Homo sapiens: one gene and its partners. The protein of the gene in region 1 interacts with the protein of each later gene in a pairwise test. Each region holds a gene or a part of one and is shown in the gene's direction. Other genes may lie near its edges.

Region 1 (3,750 bases):
TTGAACTGCTGACTTCAGGTGATCCACCCACCCGGGCCTCCCAAAGTGCTGGGATTACAGGTGTGAGCCACGGCACCCGGCCACAAAAGGTTATTTTAAAATTACTCTTCCCACTTTCCCTCTCTTTTCAGAGTCTCCAGTCTCCCTTGCCCTCTTCCTGGTCTCCACCCCCAGCTTGGACCTGGTAGGAAAGTCAGGAAGACAGCAAAGATAACACCATGGGTAGACCTGCTGCTGGTGGTGGTGTCATCCATTATTATGTAGCCCACCTGGCTGCTTCCATTTAAATGGAATTTAAATTTAAAATTCAGTTCCTATTTCAGGTGCTCCTAGCCACACGTAGGTGGTTGCATGGGTAGAGAATCTTTACATCCCTGTAGGAACTTCACTGGGCAGTGCTGGCCACACCACGGGGCAGGCATTCTTGTTCCCGCAGCTCGTCAGTCAATGTGTGTTGAATGACTAAATGAGAGGGAGATAGACACTAAGTAAGGGGAAAAGTTGTGTTCAGAAAGTCATGGAGGTTATGAAGACAGTGCCATAAGGATGATGGCCAGGACATCTGCGAGGGGAGGAGCTGGGGTGGGAAGGGGAGGGGCTGGGGTGGGATGGCAGGTGCAAAGGTCCTGGGGCAGCCAGTGGCTTGAACTCAGTGCAAAGTAGCCTGTGAGAGGCATGTGGAAGATTAGGTCAGAAGGTGGGAAGAGGTCAGGTTGGTTCCTTGGGGTGCTGGAGGTCAGAACAAGGAAGTAAGGAGCCGAGGGGCATCCTGAGTACAGAGGGCCACCATCTGATGTGACCCCTCTGTCCCTGCCCCTCTCTGCAGGCCCCTGATTGCTGATTCTGTCCGCCTGCCACACCGGCTCTGTCCGGAGCCACTGGGACTCGGGATCCAGTCCACACACACCCCTCAGAGGGGCACTGTGGCCAGAGAAATGCTTCCACGGCCCAAAGCCCCTGCCTCCCCCAGACGCCCCCAGACCCCAACCCCGAGTGAGCAGGACGCAGACCCTGGGCCAGCAAGCCCCAGGGACACCGAAGCCCAGCGTCTGCGCTTCCGGCAGTTCCAGTACCACGTGGCGAGCGGGCCGCACCTCGCGCTGGGCCAGCTCTGGACGCTGTGCCGCCAGTGGCTGAGGCCCGAGGCGCGCTCCAAGGAGCAGATGCTGGAGCTGCTGGTGCTGGAGCAGTTCCTGGGCGCGCTGCCCAGCAAGATGCGGACCTGGGTGCAGTCACAGGGCCCCCGAAGCTGCAGGGAGGCCGCCAGCCTGGTGGAGGACCTCACACAGATGTGCCAGCAGGAAGGTGAGAGGCGCAGGCTTCCTGCCCCGGGCCGGGCCAGGGGGCCTGACGTCTCCGAGGACCGAACTGCCCTCCTTCCCGCCCACATCGCTCCCACCCCTGCCCGGCCCCTCCCGACCAGCAAACCTCTCCTGCCCCGCGGCTGTGTTTTTAATTATTTTTACATATAAATGTGCTGCACGCCTCATCTGCCTCGAATTTCTCACTCAGTCGGTGATTAAAGATCCCTCCATTTCCCATGCGTCCATCTGTCCTGTGGCTTTGTGTCTGCTGCTCCTCACGGCTGCTCTCTGGGAAGGACGCTGCCTCGCCACTTCCTCCCAGCCACCTGCAGCGCCTCCTGCAACACTCAGGAATCCTAGAGATCCTTAAGCCTTCACAGGGCGCAGGCCCCATCGCTGGCTGATGGTGGGGAGAGACGCTTAGGTCTGCATCCCGACTCTGGGAGCTGGGAAATTTGGGGTTGAAACTGGGCTCCCTCCCTGTCTCCTCTCTCAGCTCCCCTCTCCCCTGACAGGGCTTTGTCCTTCTGCATCTTTGCCCCTGTGACCCCACGTCGAGATTCCATCCACCCAGGGCCCAGTCCCATGAGTGGGGCTCTTTCTTTCCTAGTGACAAAAGTGCAGGGATTGGACACTGGGAGGCCAAAAGAGGCAGCCACGGATGGTGAGAGCAGTCGTGGCACTGTGGCCTCGGGAGGGCTTCCCCAGCAGGGCCCCAGCAAGGAGGGTGCCAGGCAGCCACGCTGCAGGAGCAAAGGCTGGGAGTGAGAAGGGTTGCATCAGAGCTCACAGAAAAGAGGGGTGGAGCAAGGGAGAGGAACAGGCCCTCCCTTTGCACCCTCCCACTACAGCATTTCCGTAGACCAACAGTGATAAGCAGTTTGCAGAACACAGGGTCCAGGGTCCCCTTACTGCCCCAGGGCAGCCGGTGCCACACTTAGGAAAGCTGTGACAGCTGAGCTTTCCAGAGGCTCAAGGGTAGCCCTGTAAGCTGCAAGGCAGAAGCCAGATGAATTGGCCCTTTGAACTCTCTGATCCTGGGGTAGAGGGCCCAAGAGCACTGGCTTCTGGCGCTCTGTGGACCTCACAGCCATCCCAGCCCAGAGCCACCCTTGCTAGTTTTAATGTTCCATGGTCACTCTCAAAATTCAACGTTTTTGAGCAAAGGGCTCTCTATCTGTCTTCCATAGCGGTGGTCTGCTTTCTACATTCCATATTTTGAGCCTATGAAACAGTAGAGCAAGTATAATGAACAGCCCTGCACCGGCCACCCACCCTTATCAAAGCCCAACCTAGGAAATGCTTTGTAATCTCAGCACTTTGGGAGGCCAAGGCAGGCGGATCACAAGGCAGGAGTTCGAGACTAGCCTGGCCAACATGGTGAAACTCCGTCTCTACTAAAAATACAAAAATTAGCCGGGCGTGGTGGCGCGTGCCTATATTATATCCCAGCTACTCAGGAAGCTGAGGCAGGAGAATCGCTTGAACCCAGGAGGCGGAGCTTGCAGTGAGCCAAGATCACGCCACTGCACTGCAGCCTGGGCGACAGAGCGAGACTCCGTCTCAAAAAAAAAAAAAAAAAAAAAAGGAACAACCAGTGGAATCAGCTGAACCCCCATGCACGTCTCCTAGTCCTGTTGTCCCCCGCTCTGCCTGACACCCCAGAGGTGGCCGTGATCTTGAATTTTTCTTTTTTTAATTAAAAAATAAATAGGGGGGGGTCTTGCTGTGTTGCCCAGGCTGCTCTCAAACTCTTGGGCTCAAGCAGTCCTCCTGCCTCAGCCTCCCAAAGTGCTGGGATTACTGGTGTGAGCCACCACGCCTGGCCTGGTTCCCACGTCTTGACCCTTCTGTCAATGGTGTCCTGAACCCTGCTTCAGCAGTCGTCCTCTGTGCACTCTGTGCACACAGCCCCGGGGGGCTTGGGGAGCAGAGGGCTCACAGTGCTCGGGCCTCCCTAGTTAGTCAGTGCTGCAGTGTGTGTCCTCGTGGGCTTCTGGAGGCGCACAGGGGTGTGGAGTATGAGTGAAGAGGGTACTTGTCTTCAGCGGCCCTCGGTGTCACCACAGGTTCCTGCCCAGCAGCCACATGGAGGGACAGAATGACAGCCCTGCAGCCACTCTTGCCTGCGCCTCAGGGGTGCTGCAGGGATGTTCGGGGAAAGTCTGCCCTCCCCAGAAGGCCTGGAGAATTGGGGGCTCTGGGAAGAACAGGCCCCTCTCACGATCCCTTTCTCCCGCACAGTTCTGGTATCTCTGGACTCGGTCGAACCCCAGGACTGGAGTTTCGGTGAGGAGGAAGATGGGAAGAGTCCAAGGTCCCAGAAAGAACCATCGCAGGTGAGCCCGGGGCCCCCAGCTCCGTGCTCCTGCACCCCAGGGCATGCGTGCCGCTTCTGGGACGGCCTCAAGGATGCCCCATCCAAGGACTGTGTGAGGTTGTCCCC
Region 2 (3,750 bases), on another chromosome or scaffold:
TTCAACAAGCTGTGAAAAGCTGGGTACTTGCCTACCAGTGCTCTCGATCCTGAAATTTCAGCTCAGGAAAAGCCCTGTTTCCCATTAACCTGTTCTGTCCCCCTTGAAGTGGTGGGGCTAAAACGAGAAGAGTGCTGCCTATTTGGGAGATTGGGACCAGGCCTGAGAGGCATGATGTTTGGGTAGCATCTTCCCAACACTTGCAATTAGCACTGTTCTCAGATCACAGGCCTTGACAGCATTTACTGACAAGCACTGCTGGTGTGTGGTTTTTAGTTACGGTACTTATTTGCCCGTTTGCAACTTATCATGCAATGGGTGATTATTTCGTACTTCAGAAATTGGCTGTATGTTTTGTGAAGCCTATAGGATCTGTTATTTTTAGTTTGATTTAGCATAACTGGTCTCTTTGAATTCCACTTTCCTTTGGCTTCAAATGTGGAGAGCTCAGCATTCAGCAGGCAACTGCACATAGCCTGTTTGGGGGAAGAGTGGAAATTCACTGTGGCGGCTGCTGAGTTGGTTCTTTTCCTCTTACCTGCCTCTCTTTCCACCCAACAGGAGGAGGTGCGCCAGTCTGTAACTCCTGCCGAGCCAGTCCAGTACTATTTCACGCTGGCTCAGCAACCCACCGCTGTCCAAGTCCAGGGCCAGCAGCAAGGCCAGCAGACCACCAGCTCCACGACCACCATCCAGCCTGGGCAGATCATCATCGCACAGCCTCAGCAGGGCCAGGTCTGTGAGCTGCTGAGGATGCCCATCCAGCAAGACAGTGCCCCTTAGGTTTTTGGATGGGCAGAGCTTGATGAGGGCAGAGAGGCAGCCAGATCATTATAGAGCACTGGATTTAAAGTCTGGAAACTGGAACTTTTCCCCAGATTCAGCTACTGGGGTGAGATGTTACCCTAATCTCTCTGGACCCTGTTTTTCTCAAAGGTCAAATGAGGAAAGTGTACTAGACAGTATGTTCTCCAGGATCCCTATTAGCTCAGAAATTTTAGAAGGGAAAAAAAAATGTCTGAAATGCCTTATGAAGAGTAGAGGTGCTAAAGTGAACTCCATGCCTGCTGTCTGTGTGTCTGTGTGAGAAGTGGAATTTGTGCCCTTAAAGGGAGAGATTAGGTATCATTGCCAAGTTGCATACTCCTTCTCCCCGTCATTTCTCTGTCCCATATTTGTGTTAAGTGACCTTCTCTTTTTACGATAGTAATCAGAGGACTCTTTCTCTCCCCAGTAGTAGTGTTAAGAGCAGTAGCATTCATGTTTGTTGGGGGTCATGTGAGGCTGCAGAGAACTCTGTACTATGAGCTCTGAATCCAAATTCTCTGTCAATCATTATTTATTCATCAAACACTGAGCATCCTCTGAGGGTAAAGTTCTGTGCTATGTATTGGGGATACAAGCATGAATAAAACAGTCCTTATTTTCAAGGAATTCACAATTTAGTTGGGGATACAAATACTTAAAGGTTGTACCACCACGTGGGAATGTGTACAGGGTGTTAAAGGAACACATTAAAAGAAGTACCTTGGCTCAGCGCAGTGGCTCATGCCTGTAATCCCAACACTTTGGGAGGCCAATGTGGGAGGAACCCAGGAGTTTGAGGTTACAGTGAGGTAGGATCATGCCACTGCACTTCAGCCTGGGCAGCACAGCAAGACCTCTTCTTTAATTAAAAAAAAAAAAAAAAGGCAGGGGCATGTGGTGGCTCATGTCTGTAATTCCAGCACTTTGGGAGGCCGAGGCAGGAGGATTGCTTGAGCCCACGTGTTCAAGACCAGCCTGGGCAACATGGTGAGACCTTGTCTCCACCAGAACATCAGAACATTAGCCAGCCATGGTGGCATGCTCTTATGGCCCCAGCTACTTAAGAGGCTGAGTTGGGAGGATCGCTTGAGCCAAGGAGGTCAAGGCTACAGTGAGCTGTGATTGTGCCATTGCACTCCAGCCAGGGTGACAGAGCAAGATCCTGTCTCAAAAAAAAAACAAAAAAAAGTATATGTGTGTGTGTGTGTGTATGTGTGTGTGTATTATATATGTGTGTATATATATGTATATGTGTGTGTATGTATGTAGGGGAGGGGATGAGTAGCTGAGAAAGATGTGAACGAGGTGGTCAGATAATGTTTCTGAAGGGAATAATATGAGTCTTGGGGAACAGTGGAAATTAATCAAAGAAAGTGGGAAAGGGTGGTATTGCCAGTAGAGGGCACAGCACAGGCAAAGGCTCAGAGGTGAGAAACAGTACAGGGGGCCGTAGGAAAGTAGTCAGCGTAGGGGACCATCTACGCAAGTTTGGAAAGATAGATAGTAAACACATCCTGGACAGCCTCGTATATTCTAATAAGGAGCTGAGTTTGCCTAGAAGAAAAAAAAATGGAGTAGAGGTAGATTGATTGATTGATGTTTTTTTAAAGATAAGTTCTCACTTCGTCACTCAGGCTGGAGTGTAGTAGCACAATCATAGCTTACTGCAGCTTCAAACTACTGGGCTCAAGCAGTCCTTCTGCCTCAGCCTCCCGAGGAGCTGGGACTCCCAGGCATGTGCCACCACACCTGGATAATTTTTAATTTTTTTGTGGAGATGGGGTCTCATTATGTTTCCCAGGCTGGTCTCAAACTCCTGGCTTTATGCCATCCTCCCACCTTGGCCTCCCACAGTGGTGGGATGACAGGCATGAGCCACCATGCCCAGTTAGGAGGTAGATTTAAGTAATTATGATTTGGCCAGGTGCGGTGGCTCACACCTATAATCCCATCACTTTGGGAGGCCAAAGCAGGAGGGTCGCATGGGCCCGGGAGTTGGAGACCAGCCTGGGCAATATGGCAAGACCTTGTCTCAAAAACAAACACACAGAGAATTAAAAATAAGTAATTATGGCTGGGCGTAGTGGCTCACACCTGTAATCCCAGTACTTTGGGAGGCCGAGGTGGGCGGATCACAAAGCCAGGAGTTCAAGACCAGCCTGGCCAATATGGTGAAACCCCATCTCTACTAAAAATACAAAAATTAGCCGGGCGTGGTGGCGGGCGCCTATAGTCCCAGCTACCCGGGGAGGCTGAGGCAGGAGAATCTCTTGAACCTGGGAGGCGGATGTTGCAGTAAGCTGAGATCGTGCCACTGCACTCCAATCTGGGTGACAGAGCGAGACTGTCTCAAAAAAAAAAAAAGGTAATTATGATTTTAGGATTTATTCTCTGCTCATTTTACTTATCCATATAACAAAAATGTATTGAGTGCTTGTTCTATGCCAGACACTGTGCTAGGCAGGAGGGTTCAAAGATAATGGCTGCTCAGTCACTGGCTCAAGGCCTCGACTGTATCATGATGCCTAAGGGACCTTCTTTGGCTAATGCTTGTGCCTCTGCAGTGGTGAAAACTTTACCTGCCAAAGGCTTTATCCCTTTACAGAATGAACTTAGAGGGAGTCTGCCAAGGGCAGGCTCTGATTGGCTGATCATCCTAAGAAGCTCATGGCTGTTGTGCCCTGACAGCAGGGCACACCATACATGATTTGACAGCTGCCATGCTAACACAAGCCCTCATTTTCCTGAAATGATTTAGAAATACCTTGGAAATCCTCTCGGGAAAATTGGGTTGATACAGTACAGTGATGAGTTGGCAGCATGCATTTCTTTTTAGTCAGCGAGAATTTCATCTGTGCTCCTCTCTGCCAACCCAGACGTGCTCAGCTTGGAGCTGATAAGGCTTGTGAGGATGGTGAAGTTGGTCCTTCCCAGCATTTCCTG
Region 3 (3,750 bases), on another chromosome or scaffold:
ATTGGGATTATTCTTGAACAGTACTTATTTTTCTCTGAAATGAAATCTGAGACCGGCAGTCTAGAGTTGATACGGCAGCTCCACAAATATTAGAGATCCAGATTCCTTCCATCACTGTGCTCTGCCATTTTTAGCTTATGGTTTCCATCCTCAGGATTTCTTCATGTCTGCATTTCAGGCAGGAAGAAGGATTAATCTAAGGAAAGGGCAAAAAGATGCTTCTCCATGATGTTAGCCTTCTTTAAAGAACTTATTATTAAATCTTTCTCAGTAATTTTTGCCAGCATTTCATTGACCATCCCCAGCTGCATGTCAGTCTCCTATTGGCCATATGGCCACTTCCAGTAAAACTGGAGTCTGTTAATAAGGAAGAAGTAAGAAATGGAATTGGGTACCAACCAGTAGCACATTCTTTTCTTTTGCTCTTAATATATTGTAAGCATTTTTCCTGCCACTGTGTACCACATATGTTTTGAGTGTGTAAGAGATAGCAGATATTTTGTTCCTATATGGGACACAGCAATAAATAAGACAGCTATTGCTTGGCAGAGGCAGGACATGAAATGATGTTGATGATATAATGAGAGTAATACATTTATAAGTTTTATTTGTTTTCAGTTAATTTCATTTGGTTAATTAGTTCCTAGTACTGATGTGTTAAAATTCATGAAAATAATTTTAAGTTAAACTCTTAAGTTTTCTAACTCTGTGAATCTGTGTTAGAAGGGTTTTATTTAACTGAAATAAAAGCTCATAACTGCTTCTTCGAGCTATTTGACATTAACATTCAGAAACAATCTAAATTTTCTCTAGAAAAGAATTTACCTGAAGTTTTAACATTAGAATTTGAAAGAGTATGATGAAAAGAACACTGTACCAGTTATGTTGACTAATTTTGATAAAACAAAAAGTTTTAATCTAATGCTATTACAGTTACTATTGTTTATAGATTGCAAATATATTTGTTCTAATGAACTTTACCCAAATGATATCCAACATGTGGGATTTTTCCTTATAATGACTATACCACTAAATAAAATCATTTGTTTGATCTTTTTCTAATTATAAAACTTTTTTCTTATATCTGAAGTCTGGCCCCTCTGTGGAGGAGCTGGTAAGTATATTGTTTCTGTTTTGCTTTAATATGTCACGCTGAAGTGTTCTTAGTGTTTTATTTGCATATTATATGTTGTCACTCATTGTATTTGAAAATAGCATTAATAATGGCAATTTTTTAATGTTCCAGTACCTGAAAAGTTCAGTGGATGGCCCATTGCTCTTTTCTCACTGCATGTTGTTAAACATTTTTCTTTTGTTAGTGATTTATAGCCATTATTTGCAGAGCCTGTCAATTTTTGACAATTTTTGAGCCTTGTAGCTTGCTCATACCTCTACTTCAAAGAGCAATTGGTTTTCCCACTTCAGGGTATTGAAGATATATCAAGCAGGCTTAGTTTTTAACCCCCTTAAGTTTCTGTTTGAAATTATTTCCAGAAAAGAATGTGCATGTTGGTTTCTTCTTCATCTACTGCGTTACAACTTTTCAAGAGTCTTGAGAATAATCGTATGGCCTTTGAAACAATTGAATTTTGAAATGCTTTAGCAGAAGTTATTTTAGAAAATAACAATACATTTTTAATATTTTTCTCATTACCCCAACCTAATCAAGTTCCAATTTGTCTTATGGCTTTACCTCTTTTGAAGATATAATCTTTGGTATCTAAATGTAAAATGAACATCTTGGGTGTTACCTAGTAACAAACAGGTTAACTAAGAACCAAGAAAATTTTTTTCTGGAAATCTAGAAATGGTTAACTTCAGTTTCCTTCATCTTATTCTTGCTTACCTCTGTTAATTTCGGGCCCAAGAGTTTGTCAGATTCATTAGGGATTTGAATCATTAAAACCCCAGTGAGTGGTAGCTTAGTATGTCTCCCACATTTCATTAATGTAGTATAAATAGCTCATTAAAGTAATTGAAAGTAGGTAATCATCAACATAAAGTTTATTTAGCCCATAAGCCAAAGAAATCTTGGTCTAGGAGTGCTCTTTCAAAAGTTGCATCAACTTTAACATGTCATAAGAAAGATTTTTGTTTGTATCTCCAAACTGGTTTCTTTTGAAACAGATACTTGCCCTTTTAGGACATAGGTTCTGAAATAAGAGTTTAATAATTCCAAAATTATGTTAAAAGGAGGATTCTAGATTGAGTTTTTCGAATCCTTTAAAACCAGTATCTAGAAATTACGTTCTAATCTTTTTTTTCCCAGAAATTGAGTCTGCTAATCTTTCATCTGTTTGTCATATATATAACAAATATTTTTAATCAAAGAAGTGATAAATATATCTAGCATTTAGTAGTTGTCATTAATTTTAGCTTGTATGTGTGTGTGTATATGTAAATATATTTTTTTTAGGATTATCGTATTTATTGACTAGTATTCAAATATATCTATTTTGATGTTGTTCAAAACAGTAGACCAAAGGAGGCACATTAAATTAGTACCAAAATATATTCCATGAATTGCTGAAAATTTGCTTAAATTTGTTTCTTAGCTTCTCAATATCCAGAATAAAAAGGGAAATAATTATGTAAAATAATCAGTGCCCATACAATAGAAACAATACTATTCATCATTTCCTCAAGAGAAACAATTTCTCTGGTGCTAAGGTAGGTTTTTATTTACGTCCTCACAAAAGGGACAAAGGGGGTATAGGGAATAATGTCTTCCACATATTGTGAACAAATGTAACCATGTTTTCATAGGATTTGTGGATTCTGTAAAAGCAGTTCTGCTCAGGATAAATGCAAGTTTTCAGTGTTTACGTGGTTTTTTTGATCTATAAATAACAGTTAAAATGTCTATTGGGGTCCTTATTTAACTCTCAAAAGGGTTTTAGAAGTAAATAGCAGATTCAACTATCCATTGAAGCCACTTTTACTAATATGTGATAACATGAGCTTAGAGTAGACTACTTTTCTTACTATACTCCATATCAGGGTAACCCATGGCGTGCAATTATTTTATCTAGAAGTAGTTCCAAGATGTTATGGTACTAGTTCAAAAGAACTACATCCAGATCTTTGTGTTCCATTTTATAGAGATGATACATTGTTGAACTGTAGGCTTTTGTGCATTTTCAGGAACATGGTCTAGTGCTAAAGAGTTTTTATTTTCATTAAATTATATGCTTTTAAAAATTACATAGGAAAGAGAGCTTGAGGCAAACAAAAAAGAAAAAATGAAAGAAGCACAACTTGAAGCTGAAGTGAAATTGTTGAGAAAAGAGAATGAAGCCCTTCGTAGACATATAGCTGTTCTCCAGGCTGAAGTATATGGGGCGAGACTAGCTGCCAAGTACTTGGATAAGGAACTGGCAGGAAGGTGTGTAAAAAATGGGTATTATTGTACTCTTAAGTGACAAATTGGATATTTAATGAGGTTGACTCTTACTTCTTTCTTTTTTTATTTTTTATTTTTTTGAGATGGAGTCTTGCTCTGTTGCCCAGGCTGGAGTGCAGTGGCATGATCTCTGCTCACTGCAACCTCTGCCTCCTGGGTTCAAGCGATTCTCCTACCTCAGCCTCCTGAGTAGCTGGGATTACAGGTGCCTGCCACCACGGCCAGCTAAATTTTGTATTTTTAGTAGAGATGGGGTTTCACCATGTTGGCCAGGCTGGTCTCAAACTCCTGACCTTGTGATCCATCCACCTTGGCCTCCCAAAGTGCTGGGATTACAGGTGTGAGCC

Evidence for each region.
Region 2: the proteins of ZSCAN1 (region 1) and NFYC interact in binary tests that used the Homo sapiens proteins (3 or more experiments, as listed by UniProt).
Region 3: the proteins of ZSCAN1 (region 1) and GOPC interact in binary tests that used the Homo sapiens proteins (3 or more experiments, as listed by UniProt).

What each region holds. Positions count from the first base shown.
Region 1 is NC_000019.10:58,036,902-58,040,651, forward strand, and holds part of ZSCAN1 (zinc finger and SCAN domain-containing protein 1), read left to right. Parts: intron 1-826; coding exon of another isoform or gene 827-935; coding exon 936-1,305; intron 1,306-3,548; coding exon 3,549-3,643; intron 3,644-3,750. UniProt on the Homo sapiens protein: May be involved in transcriptional regulation.
Region 2 is NC_000001.11:40,757,560-40,761,309, forward strand, and holds part of NFYC (nuclear transcription factor Y subunit gamma), read left to right. Parts: intron 1-561; coding exon 562-735; intron 736-3,750. UniProt on the Homo sapiens protein: Component of the sequence-specific heterotrimeric transcription factor (NF-Y) which specifically recognizes a 5'-CCAAT-3' box motif found in the promoters of its target genes.
Region 3 is NC_000006.12:117,574,812-117,578,561, reverse strand, and holds part of GOPC (Golgi-associated PDZ and coiled-coil motif-containing protein), read left to right. Parts: intron 1-1,090; coding exon 1,091-1,114; intron 1,115-3,209; coding exon 3,210-3,385; intron 3,386-3,750.